2 separate regions of the Homo sapiens genome follow, and region 2 is linked to region 1. The links come from fine-mapping of genetic effects on gene expression. Tissue or cell type: whole blood. Region 1 holds a variant in brackets; the other region holds the start of a gene. All regions are shown on one strand. Distances are from middle to middle.

The links. PIP is the estimated chance that this variant, and not a neighbour inherited with it, causes the effect.
Region 2: NIPSNAP3A starts here. The variant in region 1 is fine-mapped to the expression of NIPSNAP3A in whole blood (INTERVAL, PIP 0.91).

The regions. Positions count from the first base shown.
Region 1 is chr9:104,713,097-104,721,207 of GRCh38, forward strand. The region is part of intron 1 of LOC107987105 (a long non-coding RNA gene); the gene reads right to left. Among named protein-coding and RNA genes, the nearest start is that of OR13D1, 23 kb to the left of the region's middle. The variant C/G (reference allele first, on the strand shown) is at 3,833.
Region 2 is chr9:104,744,101-104,752,211 of GRCh38, forward strand. NIPSNAP3A (nipsnap homolog 3A) reads left to right here and starts at 3,583. Exons shown (of 6, transcript NM_015469.3): 1 at 3,583-3,752; 2 at 6,856-7,066. The coding sequence starts at 3,693. LOC107987105 (a long non-coding RNA gene) reads right to left here and starts at 3,539. Exons shown (of 5, transcript XR_007061705.1): 1 at 3,349-3,539. RefSeq lists a silencer at 3,477-3,566 and an enhancer at 3,987-4,146.

The DNA of each region.
Region 1 (8,111 bases):
AGAATCAACAAACTGAAATTCTACATTTTTATAACAAAGAAAAAAGCAGAGGTAACAGAAGCCCCTGATGTTTCCCTAGGCTCCCTCCCACCCACCAGGCATCGCCTCTATCTTTTTTTTTTCTTGTGTGATACTGCCGGATGCTCTACAGTGCTTCCTATCAGCACTGCTAAGCTTGATCACATTCTAAATGGTGGGTTCTAGAATCTTTTTGCAATAACTGAGGCTGTATCAGTATGTCTGATGATGGTGGATATAAGTGTTAGATCGATTGGTGGACATAAGAACACTAAATGGCATTGAATTAATCTATGTAATATGATAGAACATAAAGCCCCACTCCAATTTCCTGTCCATTGTCTGTTTTATTCCCTACTTGGTTTTTAGAGAAAACTGTCCATTCTACACATTCTTGCCACAATTATCTTCCAAGAAAAATGTGAAAATACTATTTCTGATACATATAGTAATAAAATATAGGTTAATTTAAAATTGTTCGGAAAATATGGAGAAGATAAATTATTAGTGCCCTAAGTCTCACATTCCAGAGAAAACCACAGTTAACATTTTGGTGTCATTTCTTCAGACACATAAGTACAAAATTGCAATCATTTATATTATTAGAAACTTCTTTTTTGTAATATTATATATGTGCATTGTCCCTTTTCCTTATTCTTCTCCAAGGCTACAATTTGCAATGGTGGTAGTCTCTGACAGATTAAATAGTCTCACATGTATACCATGCCCATCACACGCCAGAAAGTCAGCATTCTAGAAGAAAAACTTATAGCTGTTAAAGCATGATTGAACGTGAAATATGATAGTACATGCAATGATATTTTTTCTATTGTTGGATCATTCAGGGGAAGATGTTATATAATAATGCATTTTTGAATGACTTTTAGGAAAATGCCTCCAGTTTCTCACCATTTGTAATTATACTGACCAACTGTTAAAGAGAAATAATCTTCATTATCTTAATGAATTATCCTCCTAAGCTTAGATTACTGAGACATTTTACTAAGAGTGAATGTTGTATTCTATCAAATGCTTTTTGGCATCTAGTTAGGTAACAATGCATTTTACTTTTGTTACCTATTTGCTTCATATATTGATAGATTTCTAACTTGGAATTCCTTGTATTAATAAAAACAAATGACATTATTTTACTATACAGTTTGGATGTACTCTGTATTTCTGTACATGTATTTCATAAGTTGGATTGATCGTAGTTTTATTGAGAGTTTTCAGTAAAAGGCTATCTTAGGTTGATAAAATAATTTGCAAACTGTACTATTAACTTTTTTTACATGAGAATAAGTTACATAGCACATAAATTATTTGTTTCTTATAAGTATAAAATAATTATCAAAACCATTCTTTACCCAGTGTCCATTTTGGGAGTGTAGTACTCACAGTGGGATCCCTATCAGGTATCACACAGTATATATGGCATAGTATGTGTTCAATAAACGAGTAAGTGGAGGTTGCTGTGGGGGCTAAAAGCACATCGTAGGGGCATCCTACTCAAAGAGGTGAAAAAGTTTTCCTAGAAAATATCTAAATTGAGAGAAGTCCTTCCAGCTTAAGAAAACAGCATGTACAAATGAATGGAGAAAAAAGGCACTATTTGGGGGAGGGAAAAAGAAACTCAGCATGCTCATTGCAGAGCATCGGGGGTGTCAGTAGGAACTTTGGAATTTCTACATTAGAGGGGCCTAGGGATGACAGTGTGGTCGGATGATGGGCTAGAGGGCTTTTCTTGAAGTTGTGTTGCATAGCAGACATACTGTTTTTCCTAAGACTGTATTTCTCTGCTTATGTGTCTTTTGTGGGGAAGCTGGTGAATATTATTGAGAAGCAAACCCACTCAATAACGCCTTCCTTGACATTATCATGGGAGAAGAAATGGCTGAAGTGGGGAAAAAAAAAGGGAACTGAGGGAGTTGAGACAGGTTTTTGTGATAGGTTAATGGTTTTTTTGTGAAGTTATTCTTTGTCTTCTCTTATTCACCCTTAATTCTGGAAAAATATGCTCCCTTACCTGGGACCCTTTTTGAACAGAGAAAATGACAGTCATTTCTTCTTCACCCCTTTCTCCTCAACAATCTCACTCTAGGATAGAAGTATTAAGTTTAGCACACTTTCTTTAACAGTAAAAATGACCCCTTTTCCTTCTCCTTCTTCTTTTCTCCTTCTCTCCCTTCATAACAACTATCTTCCAACAAATTGAAACTTCTGCCTTAACTGATTTCTTTGTGGAAATAAGTCCATGTGCCAATGTGACTAGAAACAGGAAAGGATGTGTGGAAGAAGGAAATATTTTCTAATATACTAAGATAGTGGTACCAACATCTTTTTTCACTCTATTTTCTAATATACTAAGATAGTGGTACCAACATCTTTTTTCAACTTTACTAAAATCATTGTTCAGATGATATTCTCTAAGAGGAAGAGAAATGATATGGAAAAGGAATGAAAAGGAAATAATTTTCCTGTATTTTCCCTTATAGGAAGATAGGAACGCTGCTGTCTATTTTCAGACAAGAAATAAGCCCCTCATCCATGTCTTCAAGCTCTTTGGATACAGAAAGGCCAGAGAAAATGCGTGGTTTGGGGCAAGGATATGATCAGCAAGAAACATTTTCATTTACCACCAACGCCCAGGGAACTCTAGCTATGACAGAGATAGTCTAACAAAGTTACACACATACTATATAAAGTATCCTTTATATAAGTAAGTCAATACTTTTCTTGGGCACCTAACAGAATAAATATGAAACAACTACAGGATGGCTGAGTTTTTAATGACATGGGGCTAAAGTTGTAAGTAGGCAGAACTAGCAAAACATGAGTTGGGATGAAAAAGGTAGAAAAAGCACATATTAGGACAATTAAAGATCCTGAAATGCATATTGATTTGCAGAGTAAAAACAAAGGCTAGAGGATTCCAGGTGTGTGGCTGGTAGAAGCAAATGTGATAGTAAGAAGACAGACTGGCAAAATGGATAAAGAGTCAAGACCCATCAGTGTGCTGTATTCAGGAAACCCATCTCAGGTGCAGAGACACACATAGGCTCAAAATAAAGGGATGGAGGAAGATCTAGCAAGCAAATGGAAAACAAAAAAAGGCAGGGGTTGCAATCCTAGTCTCTGATAAAACAGACTTTAAACCAACAAAGATCAAAAGACACAAAGAAGGCCATTACATAATGGTAAAGGGATCAATTCAACAAGAAGAGCTAACTATTCTAAATATATATGCACCCAATACAGGAGCACCCAGATTCATAAAGCAAGTCCTTAGAGACCTACAAAGAGACTTAGATTCCCACACAATAATAATGGGAGACTTTAACACCCCACTGTCAACATTAGACAGATCAACGAGACAGAAAGTTAACAAGGATATCCAGGAATTGAACTCAGCTCTGCACCAAGCGGACCTAATAGACATCTACAGAACTCTCCACCCCAAATCAACAGAATATACGTTCTTTTCAGCACCACATCACACCTATTCCAAAATTGACCACATAATTGGAAGTAAAGCACTCCTCAGCAAATGTAAAAGAACAGAAATTATAACAAACGGTCTCTCAGACCACAGTGCAATCAACCTGGAACTCAGGATTAAGAAACTCACTCAAAACCGCTCAACTACATGGAAACTGAACAACCTGCTCCTGAATGACTACTGGGTAAATAACCAAATGAAGGCAGAAATAAAGATGTGCTTTGAAACCAATGAGAACAAAGACACAACATACCAGAATCTCTGGGACACATTCAAAGCACTGTGTAGAGGGAAATTTATAGCACTAAATGCCCA[C/G]AAGAGAAAGCAAGAAAGATAGAAAATTAACACCCTAACATCACAATTAAAAGAACTAGAGAAGCAAAAGCAAACACATTCAAAAGCTAGCAGAAGACAAGAAATAACTAGGATCAGAGTAGAACTGAAGGAGATAGAGACACAAAAAACCCTTCAAAAAATCAATGAATTCAGGAGCTGGTTTTTTGAAAAGATCAACAAAATTGATAGACGGCTAGCAAGACTAATAAAGAAGAAAAGAGATAAGAATCAAATAGACGCAATAAAAAATGATAAAGGGGATATCACCACCAATCCCACAGAAATACAAACTACCGTCAGAGAATACTATAAACACCTCTATGCAAATAAACCAGAAAATCTAAAAGAAATGGATAAATTCCTTGACACATACACCCTCCCAAGACTAAACCAGGAAGAAGTTGAATCCCTGAATAGACCAATAACAGGCTCTGAAATTGAGGCAATAATTAATAGCTTATCAACCAAAAAAAGTCCAGGACCAGAGGGATTCACAGCTGAATTCTACCAGAGGTACAAGGAGGAGCTAATACCATTCCTTCTGAAACTATTCCAATCAATAGAAAAAGAGTGAATCCTCCCTAACTCATTTTATGAGGCCAGCATCATCCTGATACCAAAGCCTCACAGAGACACAACCAAAAAAGAGAATTTTAGATCAATATCCCTGATGAACATCGATGCAAAAATCCTCAATAAAATACTGGCAAACCGAATCCAGCAGCACATCAAAAAGCTTATCCACCATGATCAAGTGGGCTTCATCCCTGGGATGCAAGGCTGGTTGAACATATGCAAATCAATAAATGTAATCCAGCATATAAACAGAACCAAAGACAAAAACCACATGATTATCTCAATAGATGCAGAAAAGGCCTTTGACAAAATTCAACAGCCCTTCATGCTAAAAACTCTCAATAAATTAGGTATTGATGGGACATATCTCAAAATAATAAGAGCTATTTATGACAAACACACAGCCAATATCATACTGAATGGGCAAAAACTGGAAGCATTCCCTTTGAAAACTGGCACAAGACAGGGATGCCCGCTCTCACCACTCCTATTCAACATAGTGTTGGAAGTTCTGGCCAGGGCAATTAGGCAGGAGAAAGAAATAAAGGGTATTCAATTAGGAAAAGAGGAAGTCAAGTTGTCCCTGTTTGCAGATGACATGATTGTATATCTAGAAAACCCCATTGTCTCAGCCCAAAATCTCCTTAAGCTGATAAGCAACTTCAGCAAAGTCTCAGGATACAAAATCAACGTGCAAAAATCACAAGCATTCTTATACACCAATAACAGACAAACAGAGAGCCAAATCATGAGTGAACTCCCATTCACAATTGCTTCAAAGACAATAAAATACCTAGGAATCCAACTTACAAGGGATGTGAAGGACCTCTTCAAGGAGAACTACAGACCACTGCTCAATGAAATAAAAGAGGATACAAAGAAATGGAAGAATATTCCATGCTCATGGGTAGGAAGAATCAATATCGTGAAAATGGCCATACTGCCCAAGGTAATTTATAGATTCAATGGCATCCCCATCAAGCTACAAATGGCTTTCTTCATAGAATTGGAAAAAACTACTTTAAAGTTCATATGGAACCAAAAAAGAGCCCGCATCGCCAAGTCAATCCTAAGCCAAAAGAACAAAGCTGGAGGCATCACGCTACCTGACTTCAAACTATACTACAAGGCTACAGTAACCAAAACAGCATGGTACTGGTACCAAACAGAGATATAGACCAATGGAACAGAACAGAGCCCTCAGAAATAATGCCACATACCTACAACTATCTGATCTTTGACAAACCTGAGAAAAACAAGCAATGGGGAAAGGATTCCCTATTTAATAAATGGTGCTGGGAAAACTGGCTAGCCATATGTAGAAAGCTGAAACTGGATCCCTTCCTTACGCCTTATACAAAAACTAATTCAGGATGGATTAAAGACTTAAATGTTAGACCTAAAACCATAAAAACCATAGAAGAAAACCTAGGCTTTACCATTCAGGACACAGGCACGGGCAAGGACTTCATGTCTAAAACACCAAAAGCAATGGCAACAAAAGCCAAAATTGACAAATGGGATCTACTAAAACTAAAGAGCTTCTGCACAGCAAAAGAAACTACCATCACAGTGAACAGGCAACCTATAGAATGGGAGAAAATTTTTGCAACCTACTCATCTGACAAAGGGCTAATATCCAGAATCTACAAAGAACTCAAACAAATTTACAAGAAAAAAAAAAAAAAAAACCCATCAAAAAGTGGGCAAAGGATATGAACAGACACTTTTCAAAAGAAGACATTTATGCAGCCAAAAGACACATGAAAAAAATGCTCATCATCACTGGCCATCAGAGAAATGCAAATCAAAACCACAATGAGATACCATCTCACACCAGTTAGAATGGCAATCATTAAAAAGTCAGGAAACAACAGGTGCTGGAGAAGATGTGGAGAAATAGGAACACTTTTACACTGTTGGTGGGACTGTAAACTAGTTCAACCATTGTGGAAGTCAGTGTGGCGATTCCTCAGGGAACTAGAACTAGAAATATCATTTGACCCAGCAATCCCATTACTGGGTATATACCCAAAGGATTATAAATCATGCTGCTATAAAGACACATGTACACATATTTATTGCAGCACTATTCACAATAGCAAAGACTTGGAACCAACCCAAATGTCCAACAATGATAGACTTGATTAAGAAAATGTGGCACATATACACCATGGAATACTATGCAGCCATAAAAAATGATGCGTTCATGTCCTTTGTAGGGACATGGATGAAGCTGGAAACCATCATTCTCAGCAAACTATCACAAGGACAAAAAACCAAACACCGCATATTCTCACTCATAGGTGGGAACTGAACAATCAGAACACATGGTCACAGGAAGGGGAACATCACACACCGGGGCCTGTTGTGGGGTGGGGGAAGGGGAAGGGATAGCATTAGGAGATATACCTAATGTTAAATGACGAGTTAATGGGTGCAGTACACCAACACAGCACATGTATACATATGTAACAGACCTGCACATTGTGCACATGTACCCTAAAACTTAACGTATAATTTTAAAAAAAAAGAATTCTCACGTCATTGTTCTTGATTATGCTAATTCTCATAATTGTGAAATTGCCTGCTACATGTAGACAACCGAAAAGACCACATTCCAGCCGGGCGTGGTGGCTCATGCCTGTAATCCCAGCACTTTGGGAGGCCGAGGTGGGCGGATCACGAGGTCAGGAGATCGAGACCATCCTGGCTAACATGGTGAAACCTCGTCTCTACCCAAAATACAAAAAAATTTAGCTGGGCATGATGGCGGGCACCTGTAATCCCAGCTACTTGGGAGGCTGAGGCAAGACAATGGCGTGAACCCGGGAGGCGGAGCTTGCAGTGAGCCGAGATCACGCCACTGCACTCCAGCCTGGATGACAGAGCGAGACTCCGTCTCAAAAACACACACACACACACACACACACACACACACACACACATTCCAAAGGCTACAAGAAATAAAAGGCTGTGATCCAGCTTTCAGAGTTTACTAGTATATCATGTGTAATCAGAAATAAAACAAGCAAGTGATGCTTGCTATGTAAGTTTAACACAGCAAGAAATATTTCTGTAATTGTCTCTTGCTTAGAATCAGTGTAGGAATCTCTGAGAAGCACTGTGGTCTAATGGGTAAAAGGGTTGACTCTGGAGCCAGGCAACTGAATATTGGAATTTGGCTTTGGGATATATTATCTCTGTGACCTTGTAAAAGTTACTTAAACTTTTCTTTGTCTCTGTTTCGTCTCCGTAAAATGGGAGTTAAATATGGTATCTATGTCAGTGAGTTGCACTGAAGACTGATTAATACATTCAATGAGCTTACAGCACTGAAATGTGCTTACAAAAAAAGTGCTCAATAAAAATTAGCCATTGTCAATTCTGTCACACATGGAAGCTTCCTGGCCAAAATTTAAAACAGTATGGAAGATTTGGAGATGGGTCCAAAGCATTAAATACAAAAATCGAAAGAAAAGTATATATTAATAAGTACTCGTAAATGATATAAACTTGCCTGCAAAAGCATAAAATATGCATCTAAAAGGTAGAGAAAAAGGAATAGAGAATTTAGACCAATTGGAAAATTACAAAAGTTAAGAAGAAAGGTAATACTTGGTGACTAATATTAAAGGGTGAATTCCAGGCCCTAAAGAAAGCTGTACATAATAGCAGTCCA
Region 2 (8,111 bases), 31 kb after region 1:
TGGATGAATAACAATTCCATCTTTATTGGCAACAACTTCTAACTAAAATTAACCATTTCCTTTATGAAGGTAGGCAACAAACCACAATATTAGCAGGACCTGTGACTTTGTAACCAATAAATATTATAGACAATGTCAAATTCCATTTATAGTTGTTGTAAATACATAAAAATTTCTTCCACACTTATCACTACTTCAAAATTACATCTTTTACACCCACTATTAGATATTGTTTTTTAGTGCCCTAATAAAGAAGCATCTCTATTTCTTTTTAAAAAGTTTTTTATATTTCATTATTCTAGTTCATTTTTTTCATATTTGATTTTGTATTTTGATTATTCTAGTTCACTTTTTTCACTGTATTTGTTTTCTTTGCAACCCTATGTATTTGTTATACATTTAAAAACATTTGGGATCCACAGGCTCACAAGATTTTGAAAGGATTTTAAGACACAAAAAAAGGTTAGTAATACCTGCCCTAGAGAAATTCTTCTGGCGGAACCAGGAGACATCTACAAATAAATTCAAACAGCTTTGTTTATAATAGTCAGATGGACAAAAAAACAAGGTATTTTCATGTAATAGAATAGCATACTAAAGGGATGTGAATTAATTATTACAACTGCATTAATGTGGTTGATTTGCAAAAGCCTAAAGTTATAGCTAACAGTTATGTAACAAAATAATAAAATTAGTTAATAAACAATCTAAAACAGGCAAACCAAAGCAATATACTCTTTAGAGTTATATACAAATGTAGTTGAATTATTTCAGAAAAATCAATGTAATAACACAAAATTTGGGATCATGGTTACTTGAGGGAATTGGAGGAGAGGGTTGTAAGAAGAATGTGACCAGGAATGAACATGTATTGAGCTTCTGAGTTGCTGGCAATACCCTTTTGCTTAAGCCTTGTGGCAAGAGCACAGACATTCACTTTATTATTCTTCTTTAAAGTGTACAGATATCTCATATACACTTTCATACCTATAATAAATGTTTGATATTACCTTCTTAGATAGGTCATCTCTGTCTATCCAATCCAAAATAACTACCCAGTTACTCTATATCATACGAGCCTATTTTAATAATCTAGTTTTTTGATAGGATTTTTCTAGCTTTGAACTGTCTATCCTTTGGACTATTTGTCAGAATTTCAGGATATGCAACAATAATTTTCAAAATATTTATCCTATACATTTTCCAGGCAGTTTAGGGATATGCTTTTTAAAATAGCCACAGAACAATATTACATTTTAAATTCTGTCTAAAAGCTACTTTCCACTGCAAATCTAAAATTACCTTAATAATCACATATCTTTTAAAAATAAATGGTAAACTGAACTGGTTTTACAATTGGGCTTCAAAGTCTGTGCCACTTCGTAGCAATGAAACTGAGAAAATTCTCTTTTCAGACTTCACCTTTCTCACTTAAAAAACGGAGATAAAGCTTAACTCACAGTATTTGAGGATATTTAAAACCTGTGAGAAAGAGAATAGGAGAATATTTTAGCTACTTAGAAGCACTTAACAATGTTTAGCCATCTCTCAATTGTAGCCATGAATTTTGCCCCTATCTGTATTTTCCTCTTGGAAATTCCTCTTGGAAGTTCCCTGTATCTTTCTGCTGGATGGATGCAGTTAATGATGAGACTAGGGAATGGCAAAGCCACCGGGTAGAAGCCTGGCTCCCTAATTCACTAAGTATAGAAGAGCTACCTGCCAACTAGAAAAACCCACTTTGTATTCTTATAAAAAATAAACTCCTATAGTGTTTGAGTAATAATACACTTTTTTGAGTGTTGATTTACAAGAGCTATTTAATCTACCCTAATTAATATATTATTGAAAGATACTACCAAATGCTGAGTGTTCTGGCCTTCTTCCCTCCTCAGCCTCAGGAAACTGGCAGCAAGGCTTTTCTCACACAGATAAGATACTGGAAGTTTCCCTTCCCTAACACTGACTACACAGATAAATAACTTGCAGATAACAGTTTGGGGGGAGGGGATACAGCCTTCAGTGAAATACCCAGGTCAGATCACCTCACAGTGAAGCCCACTATTTGAAGAGATTCACCTGTGCTTACAGTGCTTTTAACATGTTTTTCTCACTCCAAAATATATTTTTAATGTAAACATCAATAAACGCAGGAAGGAAAGTGTATTTTGAGGGAGTGGTATGAAGAAACCTAAATCCTAAATATCCAAGTCAATAGCTAGAATCCTGACCACTTTTAGAATTCCACTAGCACCTTTATTCGTATCTTACTTTATTTTTCTTTATATTATTTGACAATCCCTGATATATTTACTCTTCCTTTTTTTATCTGTTTCCTCCATCCTGGATGTTCCAAGAGGACGGGACTTTGAATTTTGCTCAATTCTGTACCCCAGTTTCTGGAAAAGTGCCTGGAACATGGAAGGAATTTAGTAAATATCTGTTGAATAAGTAAATGGATTGGCAATTACAGGGTTTAAAAAAAAAGGTCTAAGAAAATAATTTACTCATATAGATCCAGTCCTGATACAAATGATTTTTTTAGTCTTGCATGGTTACAAATAGATGTCTCTCTTCTAGAAAAACTGAGGCAACCCTTCCGAAATAACTAATTTTAAAAAGTCTCCCTTCCTTTGAACAGACAATTCCAAAGCTCTTCCACAAGGCACAACCAATACAACCCAGGTCATGGCCCTGCAATCCCTCCCTAGTCCTCATGATGTAAGCAATATTACATTAATGTTTACAATAATGTAATTATTAGCAAGAATAATGTAAACATTAATATAGATTACTGTAAATTAATAGTGTAATTAATTACTGTAAATTAACATAAGCATTATTAGATGCAGGAAGACAAGTGAATTTGGGGGCAGTGGCATCTATGAGACATAAATCCTCATCTGCCACAGAAGGAAGTCAACACATACTATCCATAACTGAAAATGCAATAAACAGCAGAAAACACTACTTACTTAAAAATACAGAAACAAGCATTAAATGAAACAGCTTGAAATGTTGAAGGTGGTTACTCTGGGAACCAACACTCCCGGACTGGGAGGACTAGACCAGGGTATGTTTAACTTTGACTTTTTCATTTCAGGCTCGATGCTGCCATTTCTCTGAGCTCGTGGAAAATTTAATCTAAATCTTAATTAGGAGCCTTCTAAGATGGAGAACACATTCATTGCAGAGAGGTCAGGCTCAAATACACGTCTATCACAACATCTAAAACTTAACTCGGAAAAAACCTCCACGATTTTAAATACAAAGCACTGCACATGCACGCACTCAACACCTCTCCTTCTTTCCCCATGGTCAACACACCCACAACCCCTGCACATTTACCAATCTACACAACTGAGCACTGGAGCGAATGAGGTGAGTGAGGGCCCAGAAAGTTGAAGCAGGAACGATCCGAGCCTTCAGTTAATCCTAACGTCACCTCTAACGTTTGGGGTAAGAACGTTTCAGGAAACCAAGGGGGAACCAACGCTCAGCACAGCAGAGAAAGACACCAAGCTACGGGACCCGCCGCGCCTCCCGCGCCGGGGTGGAGCTGACCCCGCCGAGCCCCGCCCCAGCCTGCGTCTGCCAATGATCCAGGAGCCGCTCCTTTCCACTCGGGAAACCTTCAGAGGAGTCTCAGAAAGGACACGGCTGGCTGCTTTTCTCAGCGCCGAAGCCGCGCCATGCTCGTCCTCAGAAGCGCCCTGACTCGGGCGCTGGCCTCACGGACGCTGGCGCCTCAGGTACCGGCCACGGGGGTACCCAAGCCTTCACCCGACGGGAGGGGAGGGGCGGGGCGGGGAGTGTTCCGGGTACGTGCGAGCAATGCGCATGCGCTCTCCGCCACGCGCGCCCAGACCTGGGGCCCCGGTGAGGTTCTAGCGTGAGCCCCGGAACCCCAAGACAGGGGTACCCGGAACGCGCGTGAGGAGGAGGCCGCTGCTAGGGGAATACCCCCAGCCGGGGTCGTCTCGCGGGCAGTGGTGGTCAGAAGGCTTTTCTAGCCTGGATGCCACACCCACCGGGACACTCCCATGGCGCCGGCTGTTTCGTTTTTGCTGCCCAGCTATGTCGCGGCTGCGGCCCAGCGAGCGCTCCCATGTTGTCACCTGGCGCTGTGGAGCCGCGGGTGGAGTCGTAGCTTTCCAAGCCACCGCCCTCTCTAGACATCAGGTTGAAGGAGGGAATTGTCAACCAGCCGCTTGCCACGGAACCGGCCTCCCCCTTTTAAATGAAGCACACAACTTCCGAGCATTTCGCGGAGACCCTTGAAGAGGAGGCCCAGGGTCCCGGTGGGGCTGGACCCTGCCCGCCACCCGCGCTTCGTGTGGTCGCTCCCCCAACCAGGCGGGACCGGAGCCTCCTATCAAACCGGACGATGACAGACAGACTCTTTTAACCTTAGATGAGAAATGGACAAAATGGAGCTTGTGATTCTGCCCTAACTTTCGGGAGTGGCCTATTCTGTGGCTTCAACCTAGAAATTTCTTTTCCTTTTGATGTTTAGGACTTTACTCCTTTCTGAAGGGGCAGGATGGGAAGGGGATTAACCTGTCCTAGAGACAGACTGAGGAGCACTAAAGAAGAGCAGCTCATGTCCATTCACCCCGGGTTAACAATGCAGTTTTTACCCTAATGATTCTCCAGTGGGGCAGGGCCAGGAATGACGTCCTTATGGCATGATTCCAAACTTTAAGTTTTTAGAAATGTCCATCAGTTGTTCTCTTTTAAGTGAAGTGGAGGTCGTTGCTGGTGGGAATGATCCCTAACTTGGAGATAAGGGAGGATGGACGACTCATGATTTCTGCCCTAGCAGCTAAAAGTCATCCCTGCAACAAAATTCTTAACTCCCATCCGGCTCCCCCACCATACCCGGCTCCCCTGCAGTCTTCCTTCTCTGGCACCACCTGTCCACATCTCTCTCCCTCTCTCACTGTAGGTTCCCTACTGTATATTAATACTGCCCAAAATTGTAAAAATGTGTACCTTTGATCAACTATTTTATCCTCCAAATACAAATTCCTCGAATCAACCTGAAATCCATTTGTCACAAATGCCCCATTGGCCTATCTCCTGATATATTTTATTATAATAATTTTGAAATTATGGATACTAGGCACTTGCTTCTTGACCAACATTGTTACTAGAGTTTGGTTTAAAAGCACAAAAAGAGTGTCCACAAAAGGCAGGGGCAGCTGCAGCTGTTTTTGTTGGTAGGCTTAGTCATTTGAGCAATAAGAATATAAGTCACACACGAATAGAATTAACTCTAGATAATTATCATTAAGCCTTATCATACACAGTTACATAATTTTGTATTTTGTAAACAAAAATATGTCGGAGCAAAAGCCTACTGCTTTCAGACAGACATACTGGCTAGTCAGTATAAGCCCTAATTTGTCCATAGCTTTGTAGGTATCAAAACTGTCTTCACAGATTATTCTGGTGTAATCAACTTAAGGAAATGGCACATGCTATTCAAACTTAAGTAAGATGGATTTATAAGAATATCACGAATGCCTGTGTGTATACCATGAGTGCATATATATATGTGTGTGTGCGTATGTGTGTGTGTATGTGTATACATATATACACATAGATACCTACATAGAGGATAATCTTAGGCGAGGTATTTCTTACAGAAAGTTCAACCAGAACACAAATTAGAAATTTACAGTGCGTGTATGACTATTACAAAAGGAATTAATGGTTCTTAAGTGATATTTTCATCAATGTGGTATAAGTGGATTCATTAAATGTTGTTCACATTGCATCTGTAATTAGAAACTAATAAGAAAATTTTGACTCTGAATTTTCTTTTCTCAGCATTCATGTTCTACCATTATATTACAATGCAATTGGATAGGTCAGAGCTTTTTATTGCATTAGTTACATTCCAGTCCTAATTTTGGTCAGTGGTTTACTTCATTGAATTAGGAAATACTTTGACCTGAACTGTAATTTCCATTTTTTTCAAGAACCTAAAAGAGTTTTCTTCTAGTAAACATTTTTTTCATTATGCCTGCCAAAAGTTACGTGCGTAGTTAATAAAGTTCTTTGATGTGCATAACTGTAACACGTATGCTCTTGACTAAAGATGCAATATTGGCTAATAGGAAAACTTTTGTAAATTTGTTAGAATCCTAATTGTAGTTCTTGGATAAAGAAGTATCATTAAGATCTCAGCGCCTTCTTATGAGCAATTTCTGAAAAAGTGGCTAAAGGTGACAGTGAACCCCCACTAGGAAACAGTAACTACACACTCAGCATATTTAAGAGTAGTTGTCTTTATTGACACCTCTATGTAAACAAATGTATATGTGAAGCAGGAGAATAGGGTCTTGAGGCAGGGAACCTAAGGACTTCCTAGAACTAAATCAAACCCTTCAGCTATGACAAGAAATACCCTCTTCATTTACATAGGGTGTACACAGAGTAAATGACTTTGCAACTTTACTTCATCCTCTTCATTTATATACGGCTTACACCACATAGCCAATGGGACACCTCTAGAGGGTACTGAAACCCTAGAAAATTCTGTAACCAGGGCCCTTGAGCCACTTGCTCAGGCCCACTCCTACCCTGTGGAGTGTGCTTTCATTTTCAATAGATCTCTGCTTTTGTTACTTCATTCTTTCCTTGCTTTGTGCATTTTGTCCAGTTCTTTGTTCAAACACCAAGAACCTGGACACCCTCCATCAGTAACATATTGAGAATTGACAACAGAAGTACAAACATGAGTAATGAGTCTATGAGTGTCCCTTGTACCAGATTCAGATTAGGTTTTAACACAATATAATGAATCCTGTCTTCTCAAGATATTTACATTTGTCTTATCTTCTTCAGATGTGCTCATCTTTTGCTACGGGACCCAGACAATACGATGGAATATTCTATGAATTTCGTTCTTATTACCTTAAGCCCTCAAAGATGAATGAGTTCCTGGAAAATTTTGAGAAAAACGCTCATCTTCGGACAGCTCACTCTGAATTGGTTGGATACTGGAGTGTAGAATTTGGAGGCAGAATGAATACAGTGTTTCATATTTGGAAGTATGGTAAAGAGTCATCCAATTTTGGCTTTCAGTATAGATTTTCATTTTTCAGTATAGATTTTCATTCTGTTAAATGTAACATAAAACTTAGTTCTTGGATGTATATTATTTTAGATACATACAGGTTAACTAAGACTTTTGAAAAGCAATACCAAAAAAATAAATTCAGTTCTTATTCTTCCCAGTGGTACACCTCTAACCCCTTGCTTAAACATTACATTATATTACATTATAAATTGGAAGACATGGCATCTCATATATCAAGCGATAAAATTGTGAACTAGACTTTAAACCTCAGAAAAATATTAAAATGGTTTGCTGTAAAGATAGTTCATGAAAAATTTAAAGCAGCAATTGTAAAAGTCCAAGTGGATTAAGATCACAAAAGGAAAGGAGAAGTATCTTTTCTCTTTTTGAAGCTAGGGGGCTGGATATCAGTATTTTAGCAGAAATAATTCAACCATTTAAGGGACTTCACAATATGGAGGTTTATAGGGGATGATGGTTAACTTTCAATCCTCACTGAACTCTGAGATTTAATAATTCTGTTATGTTTAGAGACCACATTTGTTTCATATCTGTACCCCCAGAGTTTTGAGGAATTCACTGTCATACTACTCTAGGGAGGTAAAAGAAAAGGAATGAAAGAGAGTTCTTCCCGTGTTGAAACTAACCTACGCCTGGTTTAGTAGAGGAAGGAGAATAAGTTACAAGAATGCCCAGAATGCTTGTTACTCCAGTGTCTACATCAGGACTTGATGATACCTAAAGAATTTTTAATAATTTCATTTAGTGTTTGGTTTAGGGTTTTTCCCTGTTAATAGAAAAAGCCCCATTAAAATACATTTTATGCTTTAGATGTGGTACAAGTTGTATCACAGCCCATTAAAAAAACTAAGTTCTGATATACCTCACTTAAGTTGTAAGATAGGTATTCTTCCTTATCCCAATGTAAACCATATGAACCTCTCTTGCCATTAGTCTTATGAGGTCCTAATGGTAATTATAGTACTAGGCCCATATGTTGGCAAATGTATATAACTGTTTG